6 linked regions of the Homo sapiens genome follow. The protein of the gene in region 2 purifies or fractionates together with the protein of the main gene of each other region. This does not show direct contact. Each region holds a gene or a part of one and is shown on either strand. Other genes may lie near its edges.

Region 1 (3,856 bases), on a different chromosome or scaffold from region 2:
TTCTCAGCAGCATTGCTGAATAGCCTCCTGCTCTTAATATGGCATTTAATTTAGCTATCTCAAAATTAATTTCTTTTATATGTGTGTGTGTATATATATATATATATATATATTTTTTTTTTTGAGACACTGTCACTCTGTCACCCAGACTGTAGTGCAGTGGCGTGATCACAGCTCACTGCAGCCTCGACTTCTCAAGGCTTAAGGGAGCCTCCCACTTCAGCCTCTTGGGTAGCTGGGACCACAGGCACACCCAGCTAATTGGAAAAAAAAAAAAAAGGGTTTTTTGGTAGAGATGGGGGTCTCTCTAGGTTGCCCAGGCTGGTCTCAAACTCCTAAACTCACAGGATCCTCCCGCCGCAGCCCCCAAAGTGCTGGGATTACAAGCATGAGCTACCAGGCCTGGCCAATTTTTTACCTTCTAGCCACATTTCTTAATTATATGGCTATGAAGTAACTGAGCCATTCCTTTTAAAACCAATGATTCAGCTACATGTCCTTTCAATCTACCCAATCTACAGGAATTCACCTGGTTAAAAAGCCAATGGCAGGGCTGGGAACGGTGGCGCACACCTGTAATCCCAGCACTTTGGGAGGCCGAGGCAGGCAGATCACAAGGTCAGAAGTTCAAGACCAGCCTGGCCAACATGGTGAAACTCTACCTCAACTAAAAATACAAAAATTAGCCGGGCACGGTAGTGCATGCCTGTAGCCCCAGCTACTTGGGAGGCTGAGGCAGGAGAACTGCTTGAACCCGGGAGGTGGAGATTGCAGTGAGCCGAGTTCGTGCCACTGCACTCCAGCCTGGGAAACAGAGCAAGACTCCATCTTGAAAAAAACAAAAAAAAAACAAAAACCAAAACAAAAACAAAAAAAACACAGGTGGCAGTAATACTCCCGCAAGTAGATACTGTTTCTCCAAGCTACAGCTTTTATGGTAATTCCTAGTGGTTTTAGCAGAAATAACCAGCCACACCACAAATAAACTCCCTGAAATCTATTTTGTTAAATGCTGTGGAACTACAGGGAAGCCACTTTGTGGACTAAGAGCAGCTTCCTAGTAGAAGGCAGGTCTTCAGTAGGACTAAGCAGGACGGTGGTAAGAAAAGTTCTAGCTGGCTACACTTGAGGCACCAAAAACGCCATCCATGAACATTCTCTGGCTTTGAACCCAAAAGCACTTTTTACTTCATTTGAGTATGAATGGATACATTTTCAATCGCTATCAAGATTCTTTGTCAGGCCCGACGTGGTAGCTCATGTCTGTAATCCCAGCACTTTGGGAGGCCAAAGCAGGCAGATCAAAAGGTCAAAAGATTGAGACCATCTTGCCCAACACGGTGAAACCTCGTCTCTACTAAAAATACAAAAATTGGCTGGCCATGGTGGCATGCACCTGTAGTCCCAGCTACTCAGGAGGCTGAGGCAGGAGAACTGCCTGAATTCAGGAGGCGGAAGTTGCAGTGAGCTGAGGTCATGCCACTGCACTTCAGCCTGGCGACAGAAAGAATCTGTCTCAAAAAAAAAAAAAAAAAAAAAAAAAAAAAAAAAAGATATGTCAGCATTTTGAGACAAGCAAGTATCACAGGCCTCAGTAACAGCCTCTTTCATGGAACTCACCTTTGTCACATGGTATTTACTGACATGGGGGGCAGGAGTAAATGTTTATTTTCCCACAGTTTTCTTATCAACCTGACACCCCCATCCCCACCCCGCAAGCTGCATTCCCTCTCTTCCTGCCAAGGGGTAGCAAAATACTTGGAGATTCCTCTTTTGTCTTAGCTTAGGCCAACTACTCACCCAGTAACCAATAAACGCTTTGCTAATCTCTTACATTCGGATTGATGTGTTTGTTTCCAAGACAGAGTCTTGCACTGTCGCCCAGGAGGGAGTGCAGTGGCACAATCTTGGCTCACTGCAACCTCCAACCTCCACCTCCCAGGTTCAAGCAATTCTCGTGCCTCAGCCTCCCAAGTATCTGGGATTACAGGCGCCTGCCACCACCCTGGCTAATTTCTTTGTATTTTTAGTAGAGACGGGGTTTCGCCATGTTGGCCAGGTTGGTCTCAAATTCCTGAACTCAAGTGATCCACCCACCTCGGCCTCCCAAAGTGCTGGGATTACAGACGAGAGCCACCGCGCCCGGCCTGATGTGTTCTTTTTCAGGCACTCAGATAACTCAGTTCCCTTGGTCCTAACTAAGCTGAAGGTCCTCCTGGTGGCCTTGGACAGCTGGGCCACACCTTCCTCTGCCGTCTAAGTGCCAGCACCACAGCTTAATCAGACGACAAACATGTCATGGACGCTACACCTCTAGCGTCATCTCAGCAACACAAAGAGCTGTTTCACAGACAGAGTCGCAACTGACCAGCAAGTACTACTCCCCTCCACTCTGAAAAGAACAGCCGGAGAGCACCAGAAATTCACCTGAATTCTCCTGAAGGGTGCAGCACACAAGACACGGAAATCAAACAGCACAGGCTCCAAACAAAGGGAGAGCAGAGGGAGGAGGCAAAACCCGTCAACAAAACGAAGTACTGAAGGGGAGGGCGCAGCAGGCAGGCACCACCTACAGGAGCGGGGTCCAGGTGAGGCTCTTTTTGGAAGATGAAACAAACTAGCTAGTACTTGAGCCCTGAGCAAAGTGAGGAAACCAGCTCTCCCGACCTTCCTGGTGCTGGCAGGGGACCTACTCTCACAACTCTGATTTCCAAGACAGGAAGTTCCAGCAAAGGCTCCAGCTTACAGAGAACAAAAAGGCCCAAGATCTTAACGCCTGCACCAACCAGTCCTATCGTGGTTGCCTCAGTCATGTTCTGGCAATTTCACGAAAACAAGAGCATCTGGCATGACCAGGAGACTGGACTCGGCACCCTTGGTGATTGTGGCAGTCACCTCGTCATGCAAAATGACCAACCCGTCACCGTACCTGCCTGACCACAGAATCACGTTTGCTTTGGGAGACTGCGTCTGCTGTTGATCTTTCCAGGTCTTCCCTCTCCTTTAGGAGGCGGCCTCATCCTTCTACTGGCACATCTGACACTTCTGACAGTTGGAGCTCTGACGAAAAGCTCTCATGGTGGGCCACGTGGCTGGGCTCCCCACACACCAGGCCCAGGGCTGGCTCTGTGACTGTCCTGAGGAATGCAGGATGAGGCTCCTACGCACAAGCTTATATCTGACAGAAAAGACACAACTGCTAGCCTCATTCACCATCACTCCTGCACACTCCCGCAAGTCTTTCATCAAACCAATTATTCAGAGCTATCTCCTTACCCTTGCACCTGCAGCTTTCCAGACATGGAACGTTCCTCCCTCCCCTCCAGTGAAAACAGCCTTGGACACTCGGCCCAAATCGCTCCTCATCTGTGAAACTTACCCTGGGGCAAGCAGCTCTTGTTTCTCTAATGTGCTGTCCAGGCCACCAAGATGGCCCTGGTACACTGCTCAGCAGCCACCTATGACTCCAGACAGCAGGGTCACATTTTCTTTGACGACTCGGGGGCATTGGAAATGTATTTGCTGAATAAACTGTTATGGGCAAAAATGACAAATATAAAGTCCACAAGCGGATATCCTAGCCCACCCCTCACAGAAATATTCTGAGGGTAGGCCAGGCGCAGTGGCTCACGCCTGTAATCCCAGCATTTTGGGAGGCCAAGGCTAGTGGATCATGAGGTCAGGAGTTCGAGACCACCCTGGCCAGCATAGTGAAACCCCATCTCTATTAAAAATACAAAACCTAGCTGGGTGTGGTGGCATGCGCCTGTAGTCCCAGCTACGTGGGAGGCGAAGTCAGGAGAATCACTCGAACCCAGGAGGCGGAGGGTGTGGTGAGCTGAGGTTGCACCACTGC
Region 2 (3,856 bases):
TCACCTAGCACATTGGCAAGTATTGGAAAATCTGATACCCATGAAGGCAAAGCATGGGAAAACGAGTGCTGATCTCCACGGTGGAACTGCAAAGTGGTAGAACCTCTTTGGAAAGTCAATTTAGGAAGGGTTAAATTTTTTGTTTTTGTTTTTGTTTTTGTTTTTGAGACGGAGTCTTGCACTGTCACCCAGGCTGGAATGCAGTGGTGAGATCTCAGCTCACTGCAACCTCCCCCTCCCAGGTTCAAGAGATTCTCCTGCCTCAGCTTCCCAAGTAGCTGGGATTACAGGCACCTGCCACCACACCCAGCTAATTTTTTGTGTTTTTAGTAGAGACGAGGTTTCGCCATGTTGGCCAGGCTGGTCTCGAACTCCTGACCTTGTGATTCACCTGCCTCGGCCTCCCAAAGTGCTGGGATTACAGGCGTGAGCCACCGCACCTTGCCGGGTTAAATTTTTAAATGCATATAAAGCTTGCAATTCAGCAATTACACTTATGGACGAGGACAATCTAAATATAAACCCAAGGAATTGGTTAAATCGTTACAGGGCTTCAACCCACAAAAGGGAAATTTATGCACCCAAATTAATAAGAATGGGGGCAGTTATTTATGTCCTGATATGAAAAGACATCCAAAACCTAAATCTATATGTGATATGATCTTTTTCTTAAATGGAAAAGACTGTGCCATTTTTATCTACTTTCATGTGCATGAAGTTTTCGAAAGAATATGTAAGAAGCCATCATATTGGCTTCAAATTTTACTTAAATTTGTGAGTAATTTACCCTACTTATAAATTTAAGTTCTCAATCATTAATTTTTTTAAAAAATAAACATTAAATGAATATTGCTATGCAATGACTTTAAATAAAAATCATTAATAAGGGTAAACACATGCTTTTGATTTTTTTTTTTTTTTTTTTTGAGACGGAGTCTCTCTCTGTCGCCCAGGCTGGACTGCAGTGGTGACTGCAGTGGTGCCATCTCGGCTCCCTGCAAGCTCCACCTCCCGGGTTCACGCCATTCTCCTGCCTTAGCCGGGTGGATCACGAGGTCAGGAGTTTGAGACCAGCCTGGCCAACATGGTGAAACCCCATCTCTACTAAAAATACAGAAACTTAGCTGGGCGTGGTGGTGGGTGCCTGTAATCCCAGCGACTCGGAAAGCTGAGGCAGGAGAATCGCTTGAACCTGGGAGGCAAAGGTTGCAGTGAGCCAAAAAAAAGAATTCGGTTCAAGGAAATTTAGTTGCTTTTTTTTTTTTCAAGAGATAAACGTACTGGCTTAATTTTTCTTAGAATGCTTAGTGCTATAAATTCTAATTTCTAACTTCGCATGAATGGCTACTGCATATAGAATTATAGAGATGGGGGATGATGCCATTTAGTTTGAGTTTTCCTGCACTGGTGTTCTTTAAGCACTGAATATGTATTAAAACTAACTAAGACAAAGGAAAATAAATAATTTATTAGCATTTTTAAAAACAAAACATTTTATTTCCATTTTGTTAATTATCTTACAAGATCCAAACTAGAATAATCTTATAATGTCAGCTTAAAGCTGTAAAGGCATAGAAATTAGTCAACCCAAAGAGGATGCACATTTCAAGGCCTTTTCTTCATAGAAGGAAATATTTCAAGAGAAAATCTCCACTTATCTTATTCATCCACTAGCCTATAAGCTGTAATGGATTTAAAGGAAGCCCTGCGATTCCTGCAGTCTATCGGTACCCAAAAGAATCATCCCCACATCCATATCTCCAATTTTTGGTCTCTGTTCTGATCAGAAATTAGCAGCTCTTATAATCTGGTAAAAATCCACAGGAATACAAGTAGCCACACACAGAGAAACATCCCTCTATTAAGAAACATATAATTCTTGCCTTAAATTCTGGCCCATTTTTGTAACACTGGTGATGTAGTCACTTTGAGGCCATCTTCGTTCTCCATTTCCATTGCTAAACAAGTGGCAAATAGGAGGAAGCTTATGGGAGGAATTATGAAATGCAGCTGGCCGCCTCAATTGTCTGGTTTTGTTTGTTTGTTTGTTTGTTTCTTTGAGACAGAGTCTCGCTCTGTTGCCCAGATTGGAGTGCAGTGGCGCCAACTCGGCTCATTGCAAACTCCGCTTCCCGAGTTCACGCCATTCTCCTGTCCCAGCCTCCCGAGTGGCTGGGACTACAGGCGCCCGCCACCACGCCTGGCTAATTTTTTGTATTTTTAGTAGAGATGGGGTTTCACCGTGTTAGCCAGGATGGTCTGGATCTCCTGACTTTGTGATCTGCCTGCCTCAGCCTCCCAAAGTGCTGGGATTACAGGCGTGAGCCACCGCACCCGGCCAATTGTCTGTTTTAATGCACGAGGGTCAAACACATCCTTAAATTTACCAGTCAGACAACGGACTCTTCTATTCGAGTACATCTTTATGTTTTGGTGATTCAAGGCTCTTGTAATCAAATGGAGCTAACAAGAGCCCCCATCTCCCCACCTGCCAGAGACAATGGCCTCACCCTGTTGCAACAGACCATTGTTCAATGTCCAGCATTGAAATCATTCATCAGGCAATACATATAGAAAGGCTAATTAATTGATTGTCCAGACTTAGTCTGGAGCCTGGCTCCAGAAATCAAGATTAGCCAGAGACATGGAAGTCAGTTTGTCACTGGTCACCCCACCCTCTGTTGCCACCTGAATATGTTGCCACCTTAATATTTTTTTAAGACAAATTTTTAAAAACAGACAATTAAGGAATAATGTGAAGTGTGAGGCTTTACTTACCACCAGCATTCAGGTCATCTAATCTTCCCGCACCCTGCAGTTGTGAAACGGCCATGTCTCAAAATTAAACCCTGGCAGATAACAGACCAAGCCATTCCCCCTGCCCCCGCCTGGATCTTACATATAAAGACTGTAAAAGATTTCCAGTCTATCTCTGGATCTAACGGAAAAAATAAAGATTACAAAAGATTGAATAGAAGATAAAGACTCCTTCCATTTTACAGAAATGAACCATAGATAAAACCAAGACTTCTGCTTTAGTGCATCTAAACGTTAAGCCTGAGTAATCAAAAGCTTGTTTAACTCTCCATTTGACCTAATACAAGTGATAATTCAACCAGTGTAATGTCTGTTCAGATAAGGGCACTTAGTGAATAACTGGTAACTAAAACTAGCAGAAAAAAAGGAAAGTAAATCCAATTGCTAAATAGATAGCATGCATGTGATATAAATGTCAGCTATTAGATAGAAAAAGATCTGCCTACAACCTTTAATTAATGACCACATTCTATCCAAGGAGGGAAAAATGATGTATTAGCCTAAACCTCCCCAACCGTCCACAGACACATCAAGGAAGTTCAAGATGTAATCCTAAGTAACTCAGGGTATGAAATGGACTCATTTGAGCCATATGCACTTCATATATTTGTCTATTTAAGATAAAACGCAATTTGAAATTGCAATGCTAACAAGTCACTCTATATCTAGAGAAACAGAATCCAAAGCCCCCAAATCTGAAGTTTTTGGTCAAACTATTCACTTGATCTATTAATAACCGAACAGACTGACTTGCCTTAGTCACTATCATAATCAGTCTCACGTGATAATGAAATGATCAAGGGTTAAATTGTAGTAAAATCAGATAGGTCAAGGTATTCTCCAACTTGATATTTTCCAATCAAAACCAAGGAGCCAATATCACCCCTTCCTCTTTCCACAAGTATTCCTGAGAGCTGCCTCTGTGCCAGGCAACATGGCACGCATGAAGGAACACCGTTGGTCGGCACAACCAGGCGTGTTCCCTGCCCCTGCGAAGTATTCACAACAGCAAGAACACTAAACCCACACATGTGAAAAC
Region 3 (3,856 bases), on a different chromosome or scaffold from region 2:
TTTCATTTTGAATTATAGCATCTCTGAATTTACATATCCAATAAAAATGACTTGATTTTTTAATGTCAATTTTCTTCGGTAGCAAATGCCTATTATTATTGCTGGAAATGATCAACAAAAGAAGAAGTATTTGGGGAGAATGACTGAGGAGCCATTGATGTGTGTGAGTATGTGTAACTGCCGCTTTATTTCACACTTAAGAAGGGAACAAAGGTGCTATTTCTCCTTTTCAGTCTATATGTATATATTGGGATATTTAGCATTGAAACAAAACTTAGCAACATATTATTACAATGATGTGTCAAGGATGCCAAGAAAGTATCATAATAGGCCGAGGGCAATGGCTCGCACCTGTAATCCCAGCACTTTGGGAGGCGGAGGCGGGCAGATTACTTGAGGTTAGGAGTTCACAGCCTGGCTAACGTGGTGAAACCCCATCTCTACTGAAAATACAAAAATTAACCAGGCGTGATGGCGCCTGCCTATAATCCCAGCTGCTCAGGAGGCTGAGGCATAAGAATCGCTTGAACCCGAAAAGTGGAAGATGCAGTGAGCAGAGATCACACCACTGCACTGCTACCTGGGCGACAGAGTGAGTGAGACCCTGTCTCAAAAAAAAAAAAAAAAAAAAGGTGTCATCATAATTTTGTTGCTTATTTCCAGGAGAAGAGAGATCTACTTGTGATGTTTTTGGGATGTCAAAAAGTGTCATAATAATCCTCTTACTTCAGGAGAGAGAGCTCTATTTAGTGGAGCATTCTACACTTTAAGAACTGAGTCATTGTGTCAGGAAGTTCAGATTGAATGTAGGGCAATGTGTGTTTGAACTAGTAGTGTTTTGAATTAGTAAAAAATTAATGTTGGCTGGTCGTGGTGGCTCACGCCTGTAATCCCAGCACTTTGAGAGTCTGAGGCAGGTGGATCACCTGAGGTTAGGAGTTCGAGACCAGCCTAGCCAAAATGGAGAAACCCCATCTCTACTAAAAATACAAAAATTAGCTGGATGTGGTGGCGCTTGCCAGCTACTTGGGAGGCTGAGGCATGAGAATCTCTTGAACCTGGGAGGCAGAGGTTGCTGAGTAAAGATGGCGGCACTGCACTCCAGCCTGGGCAACAGAGTGAGACTCTGTCTCAAAAAAAAAAAAAAGCAATTAATGTGGGCTGGGCATAGTGGCTCACACCTGTAATGTCAGCACTTTGAGAGGCTAAGGCAGGAGAACTGCTTGAGCCCGGGAGTTCAAGACCAGCCTGGGTAACACAGTGAGACCCTGTCTCTAAATAAATAAATAAATGAATAAATAAATAAAAATTAATGTGAACCTGTAACTGAAGAAATAGCAACTTATTTGTTGAATGACTGAATGACTTGGGAAGAATAGTTGTAGAGTTTATTTAAACCTCTGAAAGCAACTCAACAAATTTTTAAATTAGATTTTTTTAACAAGATAAATACACACACAGACATACACACACACACACACACACACACACACACACGCTCTATTCTGAAACTGTTGTTTACCTAAGGATTTTTACTTCTTGTTTACTCAAACATATTTCAATCTAAGGTGTGGTTGTTATACTGAAATACAGTAGATGTATTAGTTTTGAGCTAATGATGAGAATTCATCTTAAAGAACAGAAAATAATATTTGAAAATAAATGTTTTTTATTTCAGATACCTAAAATTTCAAGCAAACTGTTTAATAAAGGAATTTGTACATATTTGCTAGGAAATTTGCAATTTTTTTTAACAATTGAGAGGTTAGCTAAACATTCTCACTATTGTCTATAAGAACTGTGTGAAACGTCTAGATTGTTCTCCTGTAGCATATACAGTCAGCTCTCCATATCCATGAGGGAATAGTTTAGGACAGGTTGCCCTCCATATCAAAATTTTTGGTTGCCAAGTCTGTTATACAAAATGTACAGTTAGCCCTTTGTATCTGTGGGTTTTGCTCCACAGTTGGTTAAATTCCAAAATTCGTGGATGCCAAAGGCAAACTTTTAAAAAATTAAAATTTTATAACTTTTCTAATTATAAAATACTGAGTATAGAAAATTTAGAAATGTTTTAAGTAGAACAAAAATATCTGTAATCCCTCAGATATGGAGTTAATTAGTATTACTTCCTTATTGTAGTGCCTACCACATTTTTAAATATGTAATTGTGTTTTTAACAGTTAGCCCCCATTATATACATGTAGTTTTATGTACATCTTTATTTAACAACATGAACATTTTCTTATGCCTTCCTTCTTTTTACATGCTGTAACAATACTGCATAATTTGCTATCTAATGGATATGCTATAAATTGTTTCACTTTTCTGTACTGTTGAATGTTTAAACTCCTTGGGTTTTTACTTTGGAAAATAATGTTATGGTAAAAAATAATACAGAAAAAAAATAAATAAAAATGATCAAATAAGAAGCCAAGAACAGGCCAGGCATGGTGGCTCATGCCTGTAATCTTAACACTTTGGGAAGCCAAGGCAGGAGGATCGCTTGAGGCCAGGAGTTCAAGACCAGCCTGGACAACGTTGAGAGACTGCCACCACACACACACACAAATATATATATATATATATATATATATATATATATATATATATATATATGAAACCAAAAAGAAGAAAAGAAGACAAAAACAACTCTGAGGAACCAGTAGTGACAAGCCATTTTGTATAGAAAAAAACAGGCTCATTTACTTCACAGGCTCTAAAAACTTCACTGTATTATGAAACAGACAGATGTCTAATAGCATATTTCAGGGAAAAAAATACCTTAAAGGTGGTTAAAACAAAATTTTGGTACTTAAAAGGGGCATCTTTTATGGACAACTCCTTAATTTGTCATGATGCTGAATACATCAAATCTCCAGGTAGCAGAGTAATCTAGTTCAGTTAACTTGAGTGACACCTGAATCCCCTCTACAGAATCCCTGTCAAAAGACCATCTGGCTGACATGTTTTTATACCTCAGGTGCCTGGGAATCAACACCTTCTGAAACAGCATCATTTGCGAGCATCTGTTATCATTAGAAAAATATTTTGGATTACATAATGCTTAAGCACAGAACCTGTCATTTTTTTTTTTATAATTTTACCAGTTCATACTGTAATAGGTGTTCAATAAATGTTAGAGTGATTTCACTGTACTTTTCTTTGGCTATATTGCCCTTCAGATGTTTGAGTATAGTTATATTTATTTATTTATTTATTTTTTGAGACGGAGTCTCGCTCTGTTGCCCAGGTCGGAGTGCAGTGGTGTGATCTTGGCCCACTGCAACCTCTGCCTCCCAGGTTCAAGCGATTCTCCTGCCTCAGCCTCCCAAGCAGCTGGGACTACAGGTGCGTGCCACCACGCCTGCCTAATTTTTTGTATGTTTAGTAGAGACAAGATTTCACTGTGTTAGCCAGGATGGTCTCTATCTCCTGACCTCATGATCTGCCCACCTTGGCCTCCCAATGTGCTGGAATTACAGGTGTGAGCCACCATGCCCAGCCAAGTATTGTTATTATTTTTTTTTTCTGAAATGGAGTCTCGCTCTGTTGCCTAGGCTGGAGTGCAGTGGCACCATCTCGGCTCACTGCAACCTCCACCTCCCAGGTTCAAGCAATTCTTCCTCAGCCTCCCAAGTAGCTGGGATTACAGGCGCCCGCCACCAAGCCTGGCTAAGTTTTTGTATTTTTAGTAGAGACAGGGTTTCACCATGTTGGCCAGGCTGGTCTCGAACTCCTAACCTCAGGTGACCCACCTGCCTCGGCCTCCCAAAGTGCTGGGATTACAAACCTGAAGCCTCAGCCACCACGCCCGGCCCTAAGTAATCATTTCTAGTGCCCCTATATATGCTTA
Region 4 (3,856 bases), on a different chromosome or scaffold from region 2:
CTTCACAACCTCAAAAACAATTATTATTTTTATGTTTGCCCATATAATAGAAAAACTTTCAGCTCTTAGTTTAATTTGAATAATTTTGTTCTTTAATTTGCATAATTCTGGTTACTTAATTTGCATAATTCTGATAGTGGTGATGCTTGTCATTTCATATTTTTATTGACCTTTGAAATTTCCTGGTTTATGTACAGTCATGTGCCACATAACAACCTTTAATTCAATGATAGACCACATATGTGACAGTGGTCCTATTAGATTATAAAACCATATTTTTACTGTACCTTTCCTGTGTTTAGATATGTTTAGATACACAAATACTTCGCATTGTGTTACAGTTGTCTACACTATCACATGCTCATAGGTTCATAGCCTAGGAGCAATAGGCTATGCCATATAGCCTAGGTGTCTAGTAGGCTATACCATCTAGGCTTGGGTAAGTACACTGTTAGGATGCTTGTACAACGATGCAGTCACCTAACAATACATTTCTCAGAACGTATCTCTGTCATTAAGGGACACACGACTGTATTTCCTGTTGGGTCTTTGACCTATTGTGGTAATGTTTATGTTATGCTTATTTATCGGAATTTTTGTGTTTTATTTTTCTCTTCCCTTAAGTTTGGTTTGGACTTTTCTGCTGATCTAAAGTTTTATGTTTTCCACATAGTTAAGTTTATCTAGAAAGTTTTTTCTCTCCTTCAGATTATAAAAACATTCATTGATCCATCTTTTTATTTAATATATATATATATTTGTAATTTATAATTTGTTTGGAATTTATTCTGATTTTACCTGTAAAGTAGGGATCTGACTTTGAATAGACTAATTTTCCCCACTGATGTATAATGCAATATTTTATCAAATACTAAAATTCTATATTAGTACATAAGTCTCTTTCTAGACTTTTGAGTAATCCCTTTGGTTTTGTACCAGTATTAAGTCATTTAGGCTACTGTATTTGTTATTTGTTGAAATAAGTCTTTCTTTTATCAGATATTTGTTTCACTTTTTAACACAAATATAAAGGCGTTAAGCCTAAGGTAAAAGGGATTCTTTTACTAAAGTTGTTTCCATTATTGAAGTGAGAAAAATGTAACCAGAGGGTGATGTGGAACTTTCCCCATGAAAAGCATTGTAGTTGAAATGCTAAAAGTTGTGCTTCAAGGGAGTTTAAGTGGCTTTAGTTGAACTTTATAATCTACAAGTTTGTTTATAAAAAGTATTTCTACAAGAAATGTACCTTGTATTTCTACTAAATAAACAACTCTCTTTTAAAGCATTAGTTTTGTTCATTAATTAGTGACTCCCCTTATATTTTAATCTTAAAGTGTTTTGGTTCTGTGTAGGTATAGAAAACTCTGTCAATTTTATAATCATTAAATAAGAATTATATTTACGTAATTATAAAAATAATAGTCTTTAGTCATTTAAATGATTTTTGACATTTTTCAACAACAAACTCTACTAGAGTCTAGGAACTAGACTGCACTTTTTATTTTTTGGAGATGGAGTTTCACTCTTGTTGCCCAGGCTAGAATACAATGGTGTGATCTCAGCTCACTGCAACCTCTGCCTCCGCAGTTCAAGAGATTCTCCTGCCTCAGCCTCCCAAGTAGCTAATTTTTTTTTTTTTTTTTAATAGCAGAGATGGGGTTTTACCATGTTGGCCAGGCTGGTCTCAAACCCCTGACCTTAGGTGATCCACCTACCTCGGCCTCCCAAAGTGCTGGGATTACAAGCGTGAGTCACCATGCCCGGCCTAGACTGAACTTTTTTTTTTTGAGATGGAGTTTCACTCTCGTTGCCCAGGCTGGAGTGCAGTGGCACGATCTTGGCTCACCACAACCTCTGCCTCCTGGGTTCAAGCAATTCTCCTGCCTCAGCCTCCCGAGTAGCTGGGATTACAGGCATGCGCCACCACACCTGACTAATTTTGTATTTTTAGTAGAGATGGGATTTCTCCATGTTTGTCAGGCTGGTCTCGAACTCCCGACCTCAGGTGATCCACCCACCTCAGCCTCCCAAAGTGCTGGGATTACAGGCATGAGCCACCACGCCCAGCCTAGACTGAACTTCTTGAGAGCAGTCGGGGCTGTGTTTGTCCTTTGAATAATTTTTTTCTGTTGAATGAACGTATATGCATCAGTAAATCCCCTACCCAAAGTAGGCTATCAGAATGTTTACAGAATTGAGTTTTAAAAACTGAAATATAGTAAATGGTTTGGAAATTTAGGAAAGGTGGATATAATTTCTTATTAATGTAATGCTCTTATTTTATCTTAGGTGACCGAACTAGCAGTTGCCCAGTGATCTTCATATTAGATGAATTTGATCTTTTTGCTCATCATAAAAACCAAACACTTCTCTATAATCTTTTTGACATTTCTCAGTCTGCACAGACCCCAATAGCAGTTATTGGTCTTACATGTAGATTGGTAAGTCTTTCTGTTCATTAAAAAAATTGATTATAATATTTTAAAATTCAAGCTTAATTGCTGACACTGCTAGTTTTTTTCACTTATTTAGGTCATTTTAAAAATTTTGTTTCAGCAGTGCCTGGTGTATTTATCCTGCTTTCAACTCAAATTGAGGAAAACAGTTTAGTAGTTACCTTAGCCCATTAATGAATACCTCCCTCCTCCCAGTGAAATTACTGAAGAAAAAAGTATGAAATCAGATTATGCTAATAAATATAATTTCTACATTATCAAGTAATGAGGCGGTTAAATCTCACCAATATTTGAGAAAACTTGGTAATAGTTTTTATTTTAAGATTTTTTTCCATATTTTGAAAAGGCTTGAAATCAACTCTAAGTAATACTATTCCAACTTTCAAAGTACACATCTCCAGAAATGGAAAAGATTCTACCAAGCACTGACAGTAGATAGTGGCTTCTTCATTCCATGGGATATTTTAGAATGATTTTAACTATAGTCTCAATATCACTATCACTTTGCCTTGTGAAGGCTCTGTACATATTGAACCATGTGTACCTTTGGACAGCAGTACAGGCCTTTTTGTGTTTACCTTCTTACACGCATGTAGTATTAACTTACTGAATTCAGATAAAACTGGTATTGAAGAGTGCCTTGGCCCATTTTGTGTTGCTATAACATAATACCTGAGACTTGGTAATTTTTAAAGAAAAGAAGTTTATTTATCTCACAGTTCTGCAGGCTGAAAAATTCAAGCGCATGGCACTGGCTTTGTTGCAAGGGTTTTCATGCTGCATGACATGGTGGAAGGTCAAATGGGGAACCGAAATGTGCAAAAACGAACCAGATAGGAGTTGGAACCTCAATTTATAACAACTCACTGTCTCAAGAACTAATCTATCCCCATGAGAACAAGAACTCACTCCAGTAAGAAGGCATTAAATCTATTTATGAGGGTCCACTCCAGTGACTTCCCACTGTTGCACTGGCAATTAAATTTCAACATGAGATTTGGTGGGGACAAACCATATCCAAACCATAGCAAAGTTGTCTCTTTTCTCATGCTATGACTGCCATGCCTCCATAGCTTTCTTGCAATCCTCTTCCCCCTCCATTCTCGGCAGATGTGTCAGGCACATTTACATGTTCACATCTCCTTTCCTACAACCCTTTTTCTTTTTCAGAAAAGTGAAACTTTTTTCTAATTCATATTTCAACAGTCCTCCTTCCAGTGCTGTTTCTCTATAGAGTGACTGTCATTTGCCCCTCCTTTCCTGTGCTCTAGAGCTTATGATACATGGCTTTAGTATAAACATCCCTCATACATCACTGGCTGGTGCTCCACATATCTTTATTCCTCCTTGCCAAAAGCAGCAGGCGATGACAAGGATCAAAGAAGCATCCTCCTTCTTGC
Region 5 (3,856 bases), on a different chromosome or scaffold from region 2:
CCACTTTGGAAAACAGACTGGCAATTCCTCAAAAGGTTAAACAGAGCTACTATATGGCCCAGCAATTCTACTCCTATGAGAAATGAAAACAGCTCCACACAGAACTTGTACACACAAATATTCGTAGCAGCATTATTCATAATAGTCAAAGAGTGGGAACAATCTATATGTCCATCAACATATGAATGGATAAATGGTATATCCAGAAATGAATGGTATTTCCAGACAACAGAATAGTATTTAGCAATAAAAAGAAATGAAGTTTATTTAGAACAAGTGGAAAAAGGAAAAAAAAAAAAAAAGTACTGATACATGCTTACAACATGGATGAACCTTGAGTACATTATGCTAAGTGCCAGCGGCAAAAGACCACATATTGGCTGGGCACGGTGGCTAACGCCTGGAATCCCAGCACTTTGGGAGGCTGAGGCAGGCGGATCACAAGGTCAGGAGATCGAGACCATCCTGGCTAACACAGGGAAACCCCATCTCCACTAAAAATACAAAAAATTAGCCGGGTGTGGTGGCGGGCGCCTGTAGTCCCAGCTACTCGGGAGGCTGAGGCAGGAGAATGGCGTGAACCCAGGAGGCGGAGCTTGCAGTGAGCTGAGATCACGCCACTGCACTCCAGCCTGGGCGACAGAGCAAGACTCCGCTCAAAAAAAAACAACAACAACACATATTATATGATTCCATTTATATGAAATATGCAGGATAGGCAAATGGTAGAGACAAAAGTAGATTAGAGGATGCCTAGGGATGAGGGGAATGAGGGTGTTGGTGAGGTGATGACTAAAGTGTATGGTGACCGGGCGCAGTGGCTCACACCTGTAATCCCAGCACTTTGGGAGGCCGTGGTGGACAGATCACCTGAGGTTGGGAGTTCGAGACCAGCCTGGCCATCATGGTGAAACCCCATCTCTACTAAAAATACAAAAATTAGCTGGGCATGGTGGCACATGCCGGTAATCCCAGCTACTTAGGAGACTGAGGCACAAGAATTGCTTGAACCCAGGAGGGAGAGATTGTAGTGAGCTGAGATCTCACCACTGCACTCCAGCCTGAGCAACAGAGAGAGACTCCATCTTTAAAAAAAAAAAAGAAAAAAGAAAAGAAAAACAAAACAGTATATGGGACTTTTTTTGGAGTGAGGAAAAATGTTCTAAAAATTGTTATGGCGCCAGGCGCGATGGCTCATGCCTGTAATCTCAGCACTTTGGGAGGCCGAGGCAGGCGGATCACGAGGTCAGGAGATCGAGACCATCCCGGCTAACACGGTGAAACCCTGTCTCTACTAAAAAAAAAAATACAAAAAATTAGCTAGGCATGGTGGTGGGCGCCTGTAGTCCCAGCTACTCGGGAGGCTGAGGCAGAAGAATGGCACGAACCTGGGAGGTGGAGCTTGCAGTCAGCCGAGATCGCGCCACTGCACTCCAGCCTGGGCGACAGAGCAAGACTCCGTCTCAAAAAAAAAAATTGTTATGGTTGGTCAGGTGCAGTGGCTCATGCCTGTAATCCCAACACTTTGGGAGGCCGAGGCAGACAGATCACCTGAGGTCAGGAGTTCAAGACCAGCCTGGCCAACATGATGAAACCCCATCTCTACTAAAAACACAAACATTAGCCGGGCGTGGTGACACGCGCCTGTAATCCTGGCTACTCGGGAGGCTGGGGCAGGAGAATTGCTTCAACCCGGGAGGCAGAGGTTGCAGTGAGCCAAGATCACATCATTGCATTCCAGCCTGGACAACAAGAGCAAAATTCCGTCTAAAAAAAAAAAAAAAATTATTATGGTGACGGCTGCACACAGATATGAAAAACCAATTATACATTCTAAATAGTTGACTTGTATGTGAAGCATATCTCTATAAAGCTGTTACCTAAAAAAAAAAAAAAAAAATGCTGAGAGACCGGCAAGTATAAATGCTTTATGGTAATTACAGAAGTGAAACAATTCTGAATGTCGATTTATTGTTTGTATGCAGCTACAGTAATTTATTAATAAGTTTATACTCTTCAGGCATCTCTCAACATTAAATACGCATTATAATACTTTATACTTTGAAGTTATGTCCTGTTTGATATTAAAGCTGTTATTAAAATAACAGCTAGTAAGTTTTTTGACTCTTTCCAATAGGATACAATTTTATAAACTGAATTGGTGGTTAGTCACAAGGACCTCACTAAGCAAAGCTTCCTTGCTATATACAGTTATTACATATGATACTTCTTGTTCTTTTTTTTATTGGCTCTGGAGTTGAAACATATCCTATTTCTAATTTAAGTAGTGTAGACTTATTCTAATGTCATTGGGTATACAATTCATTTTTTCTTCCTTTTTAAATTGTGGTAAGATGTACATAAAATGTGCCACTTCACCATTTTAAGTGTACAATTCAGTGTCATTAAGTACATACATTGTGCAACCATCACCATTATCCAACTTCAGAACTTTTTCATTATCCCAAACTGAAACTCTGTACCTATTAAACAATAACACCCTATTACACCTTCCCCCAAGCCCTCGGTTAGCTCTCTTCTACTTTCTGTCCCTATGAATTTAGCTACTCTGGTTACCTTCTGTAAGTGGAATCATACATTATTTGTCCTTTTGTATCTGGCTCATTTCATTTAGGATAATATTTTCAATGCTGTAACATGAATAAGAATTTCATTCCTTCTTAAGGATGGTCAGGTATGGTGGCTCATGCCTGTAATCCCATCACTTTGGGAAGTCGAGGCGGGACGGGTGGATCACCTGAGGTTGGGAGTTTGAGACCAGCCTGGCTAACATGGTGAAACCCCGTCTCTACTAAAAATACAAAAACTAGCCAGGCATGGTGGCACACGCCTGTAATCCCAGCTACTCGGGAGGCTGAGGCAAGTGAACTGCTTGAACCCAGGAGGTGGAGGTTGCAGTGAGCAGGATCGTGCCACTGCACTCCAGCCTGGGAGACAGAGCAACACTCGGTCTTATGTATATATATACCATATTTTGTTTATCCATTCATTTATGGATGTATACCTGGATACCTGGTTTGTTTTCACCTTTTTTTTTTTTTTTTTTTTTTTTTTTGAGACGGAGTCTCACTCTCTCGCCCAGGCTGGAGTGCAGTGGCACAATCTCGGCTCACTGCAAGCTCTGCCTCCTGGGTTCACGCCATTCTCCTGCCTCAGCCTCCCGAGTAGCTGGGACTACAGGCACCCGCCACCACGCCCGGCTTATATTTTGTATTTTTAGTAGAGACGGAATTTCACTGTGTTAGCCAGGATGGTCTCAATCTCCTGACCTCGTGATCCGCCCACCTCGGCCTCCCAAAGTGCTGGGATTACAGGCATGAGCCACAGGGCCTGGCCCACCTTTTTTTTTTTTTTTTTTTTTGAGACAGTTTCGCTCTTGTTGCCCAGGCTGGAGTGCAATGGCGTGATCTCCGCTCACTGAAACCTCCACCTCCTGGGTTCAAAAGATTCTCCTGCCTCAGCCTCCCGAGTAGCTGGGATTACAGGCGCACACCACCACACCCAGCTAATTTTTTTTTTTTAATTTAGTAGAGATGGGGTTTTACCATATTAGTCAGGCTGGTCTCAAACTCCTGACCTCAGGTGATCCGCCCGCCTCGGCCCCCCAGTGCTGGGATTACAGGCACGTGCCATGTTTTCACCTTTTGACTACTGTAAATAATGCTGCAATGAGCACTGGAGTATAACTATCTGTTTAACTCCCTGCTTAAAATTATTTTGGGTAGGCCGGGAACGGTGGCTCACACCTGTAATCCCAGCACTTTGGGAGGCTGAGGCAGGCAGATCACAAGGTCAGGAGTTTGAGACCAGCCTGGTCAATATGGTGAAACACCAT
Region 6 (3,500 bases), on a different chromosome or scaffold from region 2:
TTATAGAAGATCAGTGACTCACTTTGGTCCAAAGCCAGTTTGTTCATGCTCTTTGGCCCTTGGTTTCTACAATCAATTGATGTTAAATATTTTCCTTTTTGCTTATAATTATATATATTTTCTGTGATCATAACATTATGATATTTGGTGTTTATTTGGTCTTCACCTCAGAGTTAAATATTGAAGAGTTTGGTGGTGGCAGTGTCCTTTAGCACAGTCCTAGGACTGTTTCTGAGACTTGCCTTGGTCTGCTGGAAAAGAGGGCCAGGGATATGAGATGTTAGTGGCTGTTTTAGCATCAGGCTTCTATGTTGTGGGTCTGCAGAGGGCTGTTTCGTAACAGTCTCACTTAGTTTAGCCTGTCCTAGAAAGTTGTTCTTGCCAGCAGACCTCATACTTTATAGGGAAGCTCATTCTGTTTTTGAACTTTGACTAACTTCCTTAAAATTGAAAGTATACATATTTGGAGAAATGTAATGTAGAAAAGTAGGCAGTTTTGTCTTGAAAATGACCATTATAGGTTTCTTACAACATTTCTAGTATTCATCTTAGAGTAGCATTTAGGTTTGCTGGTCACCTGTTATCTATTTTGTCAGCAATTAAATTTTTTTTCATAGGTTCAAGGAAAGGACCCTTCCGTGGACATCACTCAGGACCTTGTGGATGAATCTGAAGAGGAGCGTTTTGATGATATGTCATCGCCAGGCTTAGAATTGCCATCTTGTGAATTAAGTCGCCTTGAAGAAATTGCAGAACTTGTGGCATCATCTTTACCTTCACCTCTTCGTCGTGAAAAACTTGCACTGGCACTAGAAAATGAGGGTTATATTAAAAAGCTCCTGGAGCTTTTTCATGTGTGTGAAGATTTGGAAAATATTGAAGGACTGCACCACTTGTATGAAATTATCAAAGGCATCTTTCTCTTGAATCGAACTGCTCTTTTTGAAGTTATGTTCTCTGAAGAATGTATAATGGACGTCATTGGATGTTTAGAATATGATCCTGCTTTATCACAACCACGAAAACACAGGGAATTTCTAACAAAAACAGCCAAGTTTAAAGAAGTGATTCCCATATCAGATCCTGAGCTGAAACAAAAAATTCATCAGACATACAGAGTTCAGTATATACAAGATATGGTTCTACCAACTCCTTCGGTCTTTGAAGAAAACATGTTATCAACACTTCACTCTTTTATCTTTTTCAATAAGGTAGAGATTGTTGGCATGTTGCAGGTGAGTTAGATCATTCCTTTTTTCATATTTCAAGAGATGCAGCGAAAACAATTTGCTCCTTTTAAATACATACATTGAGTTTTAATTTTGTTAATGTATAAAGTTAAGTATTGTGAGTTATTTTAAGAGATTATAATATACAATAATAATACGAGACCAGAAGGTTACTCTATCTGGGGTAGGAGAGGTAAGTGTGACAAATGTAGTTTGAAGAAATGGTATGAGGGGATGATTTTTTGGATACAGGGTCTTGCTCTGTCACCCAGGCTGTAGGGCAATAATGCAGTCTCAGCGACTGCAACCTCCACCTTCGCTTCCCTGGCTGAAACAATCCTCCCACTGCAGCCTCCTGAGTAGCTGGGACCACAGGTGTGCACCACCACCCCCAGCCAATTTTTGTATTTTTTGTAGAGATGGAGTTTGTCATACTGCCCAGGCTGGCCTCAAACCTCTGAGCTCAAGCAATCTGCCTGCCCTGGCCTCCCAAAGTGCTGGGATTACAGGTGTGAGCCACTGGGCCCAGCCTGATTTTTTTTTTTTTAAGTTGAGGTCTTGCTCTGTTGCCCAGGCTGGAGTGCAGTGGCACAGCCATAGCTTATTGCAACCTTGAACTCCTGGGCTTGAGCCGTCCTCCCACCTCAGCCTTCCAATTAGCTAAGACTACAGATGCATGCTACCATAGCCACCTTTTAAAAATTTTTTTGTAAAGAATGGATCTCACTTTGTTGCCCAGGCTGGTCTCAAACTCCTGGCTTCAAGCAATTCTCCCACCTTAGCCTTGCAAAGTGTTGGGATTACAGTTGTGAGCCACCATACTCAACTATAGGAGGATAATATTAATGAAATGGTTGAATGCTGAACTTTGGGGTTATTACTCTATGAATTTTGCATAGAATAGAACAGATTGGAAGAGGAAAGAGTGAAGCACAAAGCCAAGAGAAATGTCACCAAACACAGAATATAAATTCTAATGAGAATTGTGGGCCAGGCGCTATGGCCTGTCTCTACCAAAAAAATAAAATTTAAAACGAATTTGTAAAATTCCCAGATAATGATACGGTAAAAGTCCAGTTTCAGGGTCTAGGGAATGTAGCAGAGGAGGCAAATTATAACTGCATGTATCCCTACCAAAAGCCACGTTTTGCTAAGGGGTGTGCCTGTGGGTGAGTTAAACCCATGTGAATTTGAGTTTCAGCTCCGTCTGTCACTTAATAACAGTAGCTATGTGAGTTGGGCAGCCTTAACTTCTTAAAGCTTCGGTTTCCCCATCTGAAGGATGGTGACATTAATGCCTACCCTGTAAAGTTGTCTGAAAATTAACTGAGGTCAGGCATGTAAAGAAAGTGTTTAATATGATGTAAGATTCATGGGAATTTTTTAAGTGTCTATTGATAATTGCTTATTAAAATGTAGATTTTTTTTTCTTATAGTATGCCCAATCTCTCTGATCTGGTGTTTTAGGGTATTTGCATCACAGTCCCCTAGGGTGCAGTATCATGAATTCTGCACAAAACCTGAGTCAAAGTCTCTGAGAGCTAGACAATAATTTGCGTTTGTAACACCCCCAAAATTAGAAAAGCTCTTACTGTGTCATCCCAGTGTGTGAATTGGTCTATTCTAACTGAAATAGAAGTTTACATAGGCTGGGCCTAGTGGCTTATACCTGTAATCCCACCACTTTGGGAAGCCAAGGCAGGAGGATCGATTGAACCCAGAAGTTAAAGACTAGCCTGGGGCTGGATGCGGTAGCTCACGCCTACAATCCCAGCACTTTGGGAGGCCAAGGCGGGTGGATCACCTGAGGTCAAGAGTTCAAGACCAGCCTGGCCAACATGGCGAAACCCCGTCTCTACTAAAAATACAACAATTAGCTAAACGTGATGGTGGACGCCTGTAATCCCAGACTCGGGAGGCTGAGACGAGAGAATCATTTGAATCTGGGAGGCGGAGGTTGCAGTGAGCTGAGATCACACCATTGCACTCTAGCCTGGGCAACAGGAGTGAAATTCTGTCTCAAAAAAGATTTTTTTTTTTTTTTAAATTAGCCAGGTATGGTGATGCATGCCTATAATCCCAGCCATGTGGGAGGCTGAGTTGGGAGAATCGCTTGAGCCCAGGAGTTTGAGTCTGCAGTGAGCAATGATCATGCCACCGCACTCAAGCCTGAGCAACAGAGTGAGACCCTATCTCAACAACAAAAAAATAAGTTTGTGTAGTACAAAGAAAGAATTGTTATTTGCACCCATACACACACACACACACACA

What was found.
Region 1: the proteins of AKAP12 (region 2) and TRAP1 purify together in Homo sapiens (affinity purification with mass spectrometry; one large-scale study listed by BioGRID and IntAct). This does not show direct contact.
Region 3: the proteins of AKAP12 (region 2) and ACADM purify together in Homo sapiens (affinity purification with mass spectrometry; one large-scale study listed by BioGRID and IntAct). This does not show direct contact.
Region 4: the proteins of AKAP12 (region 2) and ORC4 purify together in Homo sapiens (affinity purification with mass spectrometry; one large-scale study listed by BioGRID and IntAct). This does not show direct contact.
Region 5: the proteins of AKAP12 (region 2) and PRKAR2A purify together in Homo sapiens (affinity purification with western blotting; 2 studies listed by BioGRID and IntAct, with this or other methods). This does not show direct contact.
Region 6: the proteins of AKAP12 (region 2) and PPP4R3A fractionate together in Homo sapiens (co-fractionation; one large-scale study listed by BioGRID). This does not show direct contact.

Annotation. Positions count from the first base shown.
Region 1 is NC_000016.10:3,710,768-3,714,623, forward strand, and holds part of TRAP1 (heat shock protein 75 kDa, mitochondrial isoform 1 precursor), read right to left. Parts: intron 1-3,856.
Region 2 is NC_000006.12:151,242,727-151,246,582, reverse strand, and holds part of AKAP12 (A-kinase anchor protein 12), read right to left. Parts: intron 1-3,856. UniProt on the Homo sapiens protein: Anchoring protein that mediates the subcellular compartmentation of protein kinase A (PKA) and protein kinase C (PKC).
Region 3 is NC_000001.11:75,734,709-75,738,564, forward strand, and holds part of ACADM (medium-chain specific acyl-CoA dehydrogenase, mitochondrial isoform a precursor), read left to right. Parts: intron 1-82; coding exon 83-163; intron 164-3,856. UniProt on the Homo sapiens protein: Medium-chain specific acyl-CoA dehydrogenase is one of the acyl-CoA dehydrogenases that catalyze the first step of mitochondrial fatty acid beta-oxidation, an aerobic process breaking down fatty acids into acetyl-CoA and allowing the production of energy from fats.
Region 4 is NC_000002.12:147,950,958-147,954,813, reverse strand, and holds part of ORC4 (origin recognition complex subunit 4), read left to right. Parts: intron 1-2,289; coding exon 2,290-2,441; intron 2,442-3,856. UniProt on the Homo sapiens protein: Component of the origin recognition complex (ORC) that binds origins of replication. DNA-binding is ATP-dependent. The specific DNA sequences that define origins of replication have not been identified yet.
Region 5 is NC_000003.12:48,837,519-48,841,374, forward strand, and holds part of PRKAR2A (cAMP-dependent protein kinase type II-alpha regulatory subunit), read right to left. Parts: intron 1-3,856. UniProt on the Homo sapiens protein: Regulatory subunit of the cAMP-dependent protein kinases involved in cAMP signaling in cells. Type II regulatory chains mediate membrane association by binding to anchoring proteins, including the MAP2 kinase.
Region 6 is NC_000014.9:91,479,311-91,482,810, reverse strand, and holds part of PPP4R3A (serine/threonine-protein phosphatase 4 regulatory subunit 3A), read left to right. Parts: intron 1-617; coding exon 618-1,235; intron 1,236-3,500. UniProt on the Homo sapiens protein: Regulatory subunit of serine/threonine-protein phosphatase 4. May regulate the activity of PPP4C at centrosomal microtubule organizing centers.